Linked DNA regions of Homo sapiens: region 2 is linked to region 1. Evidence: fine-mapped expression QTL. A gene starts in region 1. The other region holds a variant in brackets. All regions are shown on one strand. Distances are from middle to middle.

Region 1 (4,379 bases):
GCAATGCCTTTTAATTGTCCAGTTGGGATCTTGGGGAGGATGGAGCTTTGTCTCTCTTGTTTCCAGCTGTACTGCAGTGTGAGACACAGTACCTGGTGCTCAGTAAGTATCATTAAGTGAAGACTGATTGTCCCATCTGCTTCCTCACATCTTTGCCTGGTGATGAGCAAATGGAAGCTCAGAGAGGGCAGTGACTCACCAGCATTTCATGCTGGGATGGAGGCAGGTTTAGAGCTTGAATCTGAGTCCAGCGCCCACGCTTTCTCTCCTGCAAGGATGAAAGGCTACAGGGGTTGAGAAAACCCTCCCTTCTGCCCTGAAGGCAGAGCTGTGGCACGGCTCAGGCTTGCTTCCTCATCCCCTGAGTGTGAGGCTTTGCTGCCAACACACAGGGGCTTGTCCCACCTGGGGCAGGAGGAGGCAGAGTCTATGGCACTGCTTCTCTGAATCTGATTGATTCAGCCCCACAATCTCAGGCCCTCCAGACACCAAAATGAACAAGATCCAGCCCCAGCTTCAGGGGTGTCTCCACCTGCTGAAGGTGGTCTCTGCTGAACTTTTCTAGGTTCTGAATCCCACCTCACCCCAACCCTTCTGCATCCTAGCTCATAGGATGTACGAATGACTCCCGTGCCTGGACTAGTGGCTTTACATAGGTAATGGTGGCTCCTCAGAGCACAGAGAGGTGCAGTGGAGTCCCAGAGCCCCTGAGCCGAGAATCAAGCCCAGATCTGCCTGGCTCTGAAGCCTGGGCTGCGCCAAGCCTATCACATATCCCAGCCCTCAACTGTCCAAGAACAAGACCGCACCCAGTTGGGAGGGGTGAGGAAAGGAGGCTCTAGGGAGGCCACAGCACCTGCACTGGGCCTAAGAGGGTGTCCCAGGAGGGATGAGAAGGAGCAGAGCAGCCAAGCCAGGGTGCAGAGGCAGGGAAGAGTGGGGCGAGAGAAGGGTGGAAGGAAGGTTCAGCCCAGTCCGCAGGCCGGAGAGTTTGGATTTTGATCTGATGGTAGTAGGGAGACACAAAAGGTGTTTGCGCAGTGTGAGGTCATCTGTGCTTGGGGAGCCTATGCTGGCTGTGCACTGGGGAGTGGAAGGGAGGCAAGGAGCCCAGTCAAGAGGCCATTAGAAGGTCCAGAGGTGGCTCATAGTTTTGATAGATTTCATCCTGCTCAAGTTTGAGGCAGAGTGAAAGCTATTGGGAGGGAAATACACCAGAGGACACGGAGGGCCCATGAGTGCTGAAGAAGGCTGCAGCTGGGTTGGGCGTCGATGACATAAACCTGAGAGAGAGCAGGAGGATGTGCAGGGCCATGTGAAGTAGGGTCTGCATTTGGGGGCTCTGTACATAGTAGGTACTCAGTAACTGTTCATTGGATGAATGGATGAATAACTCCTTGTCTCTGGGTCAGCTCTGGTCTTACCCTCTCCTGTTTCTCACACCTCTTCTCTTTGCCCACCCTGTCCTGTGGCCCTGGGGAGACCTCAGCTGGCCCAGTAGAGGCAGTGCTGGCCCATGGTTCTGCCGGAGGCGCCTCCATGTTTGCGGGTGCACCGCACGCCTTCTCCCTCTCTGTCCCCCTCCCCCTCCCTGTCCTTATCTTTCCCTTCTGTCTCCATGGCGACTCACCACCTCGGCTTGCCTGCATCCCAGCCTCTGCCAGGGATTCTGAGCCGGGCTCCATCCCTCCCTCCTCGGAGCCCTGCTACCCGCAGCCGTGTCTCCTCCCCCTGGGGTGAGTCCAGCAGCAGCCTCCTCTTTCCTGACTGTCACATTTCTTTTCCAGCTCTGACCGGGAGTCAGCTCCTCGGGGATACCATCCCCCGACCTCACCTTCTACCTACCGCAGCCTGCTAGCCTTTCCGGGAGAAAAGGCATCCTTACCTCTGGTTGAAGGTCTCGGGGCCTCCCCCTCTGCATCCGGACCCTCTCCCCATCCCAGCCTCCCATGCCAAGGCCCGCCTTGTCAGTCACTTCCTTTTGTCATCGGCTTGGCAAACGGGCAAGTCTTCAGTCCTAAGATCGGGAAGGAGAGTGGGGTGGGAAGGGCCCTCCTTGGGCTGGGGGATGGGCCGGGGGTGGGGAGGATGAGGGGTCCCTGGAAATCCAGGGTGAAGATAGAAGTCTGGATTATGTTCTAAATCTTTTTTTTTTTTTTTTTTCTCCAAGGAGAGAAAACAGAGCTTCATGGGAAACAGCGGCAACAGTTGGTAAGTAGCAGGGCCTTCCAGGCTGGGATGGGTGCAGTGAGGCCAGGCAGGTCAGTTGAAATGGCCGGTCCTGGAACACAGAGCCCGGCAGCCCAGCCGGGAGGGCTGTCCGCCTGAGGCTGGATCCGCCAGGCTGTGGAGGGAGGGACAGGAAGAAGCAGGTGGGTGCTGCAGGGAGGCAGATGCCAGCTCAGAGCAGAGAGCGGAAGGAATCTTCTAAGATCCAGAGCCATCTGCCCAACTGCAGCACAGGCTGATGGCTTCTCCTCACTGTCCCTGTAGCATGGGGTTGTGGAGGGTATCATCCCTGGGGGCCTGGCTGAAGTCAGCACCTCATGGAGGGAGCCCCGCTGTAGAACGCCGGGAGAGGCTCTTCCCAAGCATTTGCACCAGGCACTGTGCAGACAGCTGCACACGCCTCCTCTCGGATGGCCACCCCAACGGCCCCATGAGGGGTATTGCTATCCTCTCCATTGGGACAGTTAGGAAATTGAGGCCCAGAGAGGGGAAGGAACTTGCTTGCATTTGCATGGCTGGGATGTGGTGGAGTCCATTCCACTCAGATTTTCTCCCTCTCAGACTCTCTCACCATTGCTCTGCTGCCCCCACTCTGAGGCCCCCAGGTCCTAGGACACATGTCAGTGAGGAACGGGCAGAGCTTGGCCTCTCTGGGAGCAGCTCCGCCTGTCCATGGAGGCACTGATGGAAATTGGGTTGGCACAAAGGGACCTCCACTCCCAAGCCATCAGTCTTCCACCACAACCCTGGCCGGTACCCCCTGCCCCCAATAGACATCCTGCTTTTCAATGGCCTGTTTTGCCCCACAGGTCCCATACACCTTTCCCCAAGTTGGAGCTAGGCCTGGGGCCCCAGCCCATGGCGCCCCGGGAGCTCCCTACCTGCTCCATCTGCCTGGAGAGGTTGCGCGACCCCATCTCGCTGGACTGTGGCCACGACTTCTGCATACGGTGCTTCAGCACACACCGTCTCCCGGGCTGTGAGCCGCCCTGCTGTCCTGAGTGCCGGAAGATATGCAAGCAGAAGAGGGGCCTCCGGAGCCTGGGCGAGAAGATGAAGCTCCTGCCGCAGCGGCCGCTGCCCCCTGCACTGCAGGTCTGGGGACTGGGCCTAATCAGTCAGACCCAAGAGGAGGGGGTGGCTTTGGCCCTATTCTAGAACATCAGGACACAGAGCTCCAGGCTGAACACATTCCAGGGTCAGGAGCTGGTCCTGGATGCTCAGGGGCCCCTCTCTTCTCCTGGCCCAGGAGACGTGTCCTGTGAGGGCGGAGCCGCTGCTGCTGGTTCGCATCAATGCCTCTGGGGGCCTCATCCTTAGGATGGGGGCCATCAACCGCTGCCTGAAGCACCCTCTGGCCAGGGACACCCCAGTCTGCCTCCTCGCTGTCCTGGGGGAGCAGCACTCAGGGAAGTCCTTCCTCCTCAACCATTTGCTTCAGGGCTTGCCGGGCCTGGTGAGGGCGGGGCGGGGCAGGAGGGAGGCGGGGAGCAAGGATGGGGGTTCCTGCCTGGGGGAAGCTGGGTCTGGTATTCCGGTCTGTGGGGACAAGGAACCGACCAACTGATGCTCTCCCTTCTCTCCCCTGCAGGAGTCTGGTGAGGGCGGCCGGCCAAGAGGAGGAGAGGCATCCCTGCAGGGCTGCAGGTGGGGCGCCAATGGCCTCGCCAGGGGCATATGGATGTGGAGCCACCCCTTCTTGCTGGGGAAAGAAGGGAAGAAGGTGAGGGGGGAAGTGGCAGAAGGAGGTCAGGGATGGGAAGGGGAATCAAGAAGGGCGTCTCTGGGGTGAGGATAGAAGATGGGGATGGGACGGGGCAGGGTTGGGAAGAATGTGGGAGAACAAGGCAGGCCTGGCCCCTTGGGTCTTTCCCTACCCCCTGCATAGGTGGCGGTGTTCCTGGTGGACACAGGGGATGCCATGAGCCCTGAGCTGAGCAGGGAAACAAGGATCAAGCTCTGTGCTCTCACCACGATGCTGAGCTCCTACCAGGTGATGGGGGGCGCTGATGTTGGCATCCCCACCCCACACACCCTTCTCCAGCTCAGCTTCCTCAAGGCCAGAGCATCTCACAGGCTTTGGTGTCTGGGGTCCTGATAGGTTCTGGGGCTGCCTTAGAAGGGGGAAGGTGCTCCTAGTTGGTGAAGGT
Region 2 (4,379 bases), 100 kb before region 1:
CCGTTCCAAAGTAAATTTATTGCTATATGTTTTGTGTGTTTTTAAGAATTTCATGACAGGGTGATGCCTCTGCTTGGCAACCTCACATGGTAGAGAAGTTCCCAGTCTCCTGCCCGGCCCCACCTCAGCCCTCTGCCCAGAAGCAGCCTCTTTCTACCTCCCCTGGTTCTTCTGTGGATCCCGTCTGTGGCCTGAATTGCATTTAGGCCTCTTCCCCTGTTTTATTCACCATAGCCATGGCCCAGCTATCTGAAAGCCTCCTTTGTCAGGAATTATTCCTAACCTTTTAGTTTCTCTCAAAGAGGAAAACCCTAAGAAGCAAATTTAGATTGGAAAGTAAGGCAGAAGCAACACCTAGGTGAATGAATCCTGCTAGTTAGGTTTCCTAAAATAGATGTAATGAAAGAAGGAAGTAAACTAATACACAATTAGAACATTTATTTATTTTTTGAGATGCAGTCTTGCTCTTTTGCCCAGGCTGGAGTGCAGTAGCTTGATCTTGGCTCACTGCAACCTCTGCCTTCTGTGTTCAAGCAATTCTCCTGCCTCAGCCTCCCAAGTAGTTGGGATTACTGGCGCCCGCCACCACACCCAGCTAATTTTTGTGTTTTTAGTAGAGACCGGGTTTTACCATTTTGGCCAGGCTTGTCTAGAACTCCTGGCCTCAGGTGATCCGCCCGTCTCAGCCTCCCAAAGTGCTAGGATTACAGGCATAAGCCGCCATGCCCGGCACAATTAGAACATTTTAAAATGACCCGTTAACCATGAAATTGAATTCTGTAGTTGTCCATCTGTCGACCTGTGCATGCACCTGTCTGTGCATGCATGTAAGCCTCCACCCAACAGGTGTTTGTCAGCCAGGGGTGAGTGCTACAAGGGAGAGGTGCAGAGGTGCAGAGTCTGACACAGCATCAGGATGGAGGGGAAGGACCAGGTCCGGGAAGCCGAGCTCTGACTACAAAAGAGGAGGTGGGTGCGCTGAGGGAACAGCCTGCACGGAGACCCGGGAGGAGGACAGGGCAAGGAACCATCTAAAGCAGTAGCTCCAAATCTCTCAGAGGGCAGGTCTTGTTCTGAGAGTTTTAGAGAAGCTATGGACCCTTCCTGAAACGGGGGCAGAGGTGGGCACATACTTCTAAAACTACAATAATTTCTAAAAGCATTTAGATTCCCTGATCGTGAAACATCCTGATGGCTGTGTAAGCCCCAGCACCCAGCACCATGGTTTATGTTGTGAATGTTAAGACTCCCGTGGGGTTTGTTACATCAGCTAGGAGTTCACATCTCATTCATTCAATAAAAACTGTCTTTCCAGGAGCTGCTTAGAAGTATTTAAACTAGCTAAGTGCACAGCAAAAGTGTCTGCATTTTTATCTGCATTTCTTTCTAATCAGTGTACAAAGCTGCTTACAGAACGAAAATGTTTGGGGTCACTGCAGAAATGGGCGGGCTTCATTTTCCATGATCTCGTAGTAACACTACGAGAGACAAAGGTCAACTCTTTTTTTTTTTTTTTTTTTGAGACGGAGTCTCGCTCTGTCACTAGGCTGGAGTGCAGTGGCGAGATCTTGGCTCACTGCAACCTCCATATCCCGGGTCTCTAAGTGATTCTCCTGCTAGCTGGGATTATAGGCACACGCCACCATGCCCAGCTAATTTTTGTATTTTTAGTAGAGATGGCGTTTCACCATGTTGGCCAGGATGGTCTCGATCTCTTGACCTTGTGATCCGCCCGCCTCGGCCTCCCAAAGTGTGAGGATTATAGGCGTGAGCCACCGCGCCTGGCCTCAAAAGTCAGCTCTTGAATGTTGGTGTGCCTGGAGTGGAGTCTTTGGTCTCCAGATGCCCTCCACCTGTTTGAAGGATGCTCTTTGGTTCATCTGTTCAAGAGCTATACTTTGGGTCTTTGAGTTAGTTCCTTTTTTGGAGCACTGCAGATCTGCCGTGAAGACTGAGGTTCTGATCCTTGTGAGGCCTGATGGCTGGGGCTTGCATACCCAAAGGCATCTTCTCTTGGTTGGTACCAGGGGACTTCTGTAGTTGGGAAAGCTACGTTTGACTGTCACTTGATTTTAACATTCAAATATTTGTAAGCCTTTCCTTTCCTCTGCCTGCATTGTTGGGCTACTGCTGGACCTTGCGGGTTTGAGATGGGAATGGAATGTGGTCTGCCCAGGAAACTGCTGTGCAGGAGCTGTATCAGCCTTGTCTTTTGCATATGATGACTTGGTCTTCCCCAACAGCCACCTCCCCGCGAGTGTCCTCCGAGCTGGAGCAAGCCCGGCCCCAGACTAGTGGAGAAGAGGAGCTTCAGCTGCAGCTGGCACTTGCCATGAGCAGAGAAGTGGCTGAGCAGGTCAGTGCCCCAGGCAGGTCTGCA[C/G]TGCATTGACTGCCCATGCTCAGGGTGGAGTGTGGCTCACTGGGAAGAAGATGGCAGACACAGCCCTGTCTTCAAAACATTTCAGATATGCTTGCTGAGATGGCATTTCATGCTGCCGTAAGTGTGTATTCTTGTCACCCAGTGTCCCTCCCAGTCAGGGAGGGATCCCATGCAAAGTTACATTTAGGAAAGATTTTCTAGGAAGTCATTGCCAAGGAAAGAAACCAGTTAAAAATGCTTCCCAGAAACACTTGTGCAGACACGTGTCTGGGCTTTCCCTGAGTGAGCTGAGCCTGCACAGGCTCTTTGAAGGGTGGCATGCAGGGTGGGCGCAGGGATGCAGGCCTGAGGGGCAGGAGCCAGCCCAGCCCCCGCCAAGCACTTTGACCTGTAGCAAGAGATTTGCAAAAAACAAAGGCTGGGAAAAAATGCTCCCGAAATGAGAGTGCTTGTGTTTTGATGATGGAAGTATGTATAGTTTTAGTTTTTTTCAGTTCCCATTTTTCTTTTCTTTTCTCTTTTCTTTTCTTTCTCTCTTTCTCCTTCTTTCTTTTTTTTTTTTTTTTTTTTTTTTGAATCAGAGTCTCACTCTGTCACCCAGGCTGGAGTGCAGTGGTGCAATCTTGGCTCCCTGAGACCTCCGCGTCCTGGGTTCAAGTGATTCTCGTGCCTCAGCGTCCCGAGTAGCTGGGATTTCAGGCGCGTGCCACCATGCCCGGCTAATTTTTGTATTTTTAGTAGAGACAGGGTTTCACCATGTTGGTCGGGCTGGTCTCAAACTTCTGACCTCAAGTGATCTGCCCACCTCGGCCTCCCAAAGTGCTGAGAGTACAGTCTTGGGCCACCGTGCCTGGCCCCCATTTTTCTTTAGTAAGCATGCATTACTTTACAACAGCGAGAAGGGAAAGGAGCAATTAGAGTGGCCTTACAAATTGTCAAGCCTTTGGTTGCAGTTATCAGGGCTGTCTCCAATGACCTTTGGTTAAAAAAGGTAGATGGGACCAGGGGCAGCACAGGGATTCCTCTCCTCTATTAGAAGTTGGTGTTCAGAGAGGAATACTGGGGATAGTTAGATTTGAGTACTGACAAGTTCATCCCGGCATTGTTTGTGTGTCTATAACTGGCAACATTCTAAAGCTCAGTGACAGTGGGCAATCTCAGTTGTGGCCTCTCTGTCCCTGCAGTGGGAAACAGGCCACCAGTAACTGCCCAGGTGGATGCATGTGGCTTCATGGCCAGCAGCCCAGGAAGAAGGTGCGTGGTAGCATCCACTGAGAAACATAGGGACAGACGGACGGTTTGAGCCCATTTTAGTTAATATTTATAATAAAATATAAGGGAGCAAGTTCAAACTCCCGTGCTGATCAGTAGTGGCATTGTCCCTGTGAATAGCTACTGTGTAGCAGCCTGGGTAATACCATGAGACCCTATCTCTTAAAAACAAGAAAAGAAAAAATACAAGGAATATATTATTTATATTTAATTATTATATTATATAAAAGCTTAGGACAACCCTGTCTTTTGCATATGGTGACTTTGCCTTAAATAAAGATAGTGAATCATTTCTGTTAGGAATCATAGAAATATGCAGCCATTTTCCGGAAGCATACACAGTGGAGGTGGAATGATACGTGATTTTTATCTTCTTTCTAATTCCTTTTTGGGTTGTCAGATTTGTGTTTTATAAGGACACACATTGCTTCTATAAGTAGAATTTATAAAGCCAGTTTCATTTTGAGAAAAAAATATTTTAGATTAAGCATTCCCTTTCCCCAGTTTGGTGGTACCTGAGCCATAGTCTCCCTGGTGTGACCCCACAGGGGTCCAAGTCACAGGAGTCGCCATGAGGGAGGGGCCTTCTGGGTACACACACATTTGGGATTTGAAAGTAATTGTGTTTTACAAGTAGTTTTGAAATCTTCCTTTGAAATACTGCATCATACAATGTGCATTTCCTGTTTCTGGCCAGTGTGGCTTTGTTCTGTACAGTGATGTTATT

Which allele goes with the higher level. Positions count from the first base shown, and alleles are read on the strand shown. Sizes are in standard deviations (SD) of each study's normalised expression.
As copies of C replace G in region 2, the expression in whole blood of the gene that starts at base 1,773 in region 1 goes up (moderate effect, 0.51 SD a copy in GTEx).

Evidence for each region. PIP is the estimated chance that this variant, and not a neighbour inherited with it, causes the effect. A credible set is the group of variants that fine-mapping cannot tell apart.
Region 2: its variant is the best candidate, but not a certain one, in a credible set for the expression of RNF112 in whole blood (GTEx, PIP 0.61).

What each region holds. Positions count from the first base shown.
Region 1 is chr17:19,409,460-19,413,838 of GRCh38, forward strand. RNF112 (ring finger protein 112) reads left to right here and starts at 1,773. Exons shown (of 14, transcript NM_007148.5): 1 at 1,773-2,003; 2 at 2,171-2,211; 3 at 3,039-3,324; 4 at 3,479-3,685; 5 at 3,821-3,952; 6 at 4,118-4,222. The coding sequence starts at 1,950.
Region 2 is chr17:19,307,642-19,312,020 of GRCh38, forward strand. EPN2 (epsin 2) reads left to right here. Exons shown (of 11, transcript NM_014964.5): 5 at 2,244-2,356. Among named protein-coding and RNA genes, the nearest start is that of EPN2-AS1, 3.6 kb to the left of the region's middle. RefSeq lists enhancers at 1,281-2,197, 2,198-3,113. The variant C/G (reference allele first, on the strand shown) is at 2,381.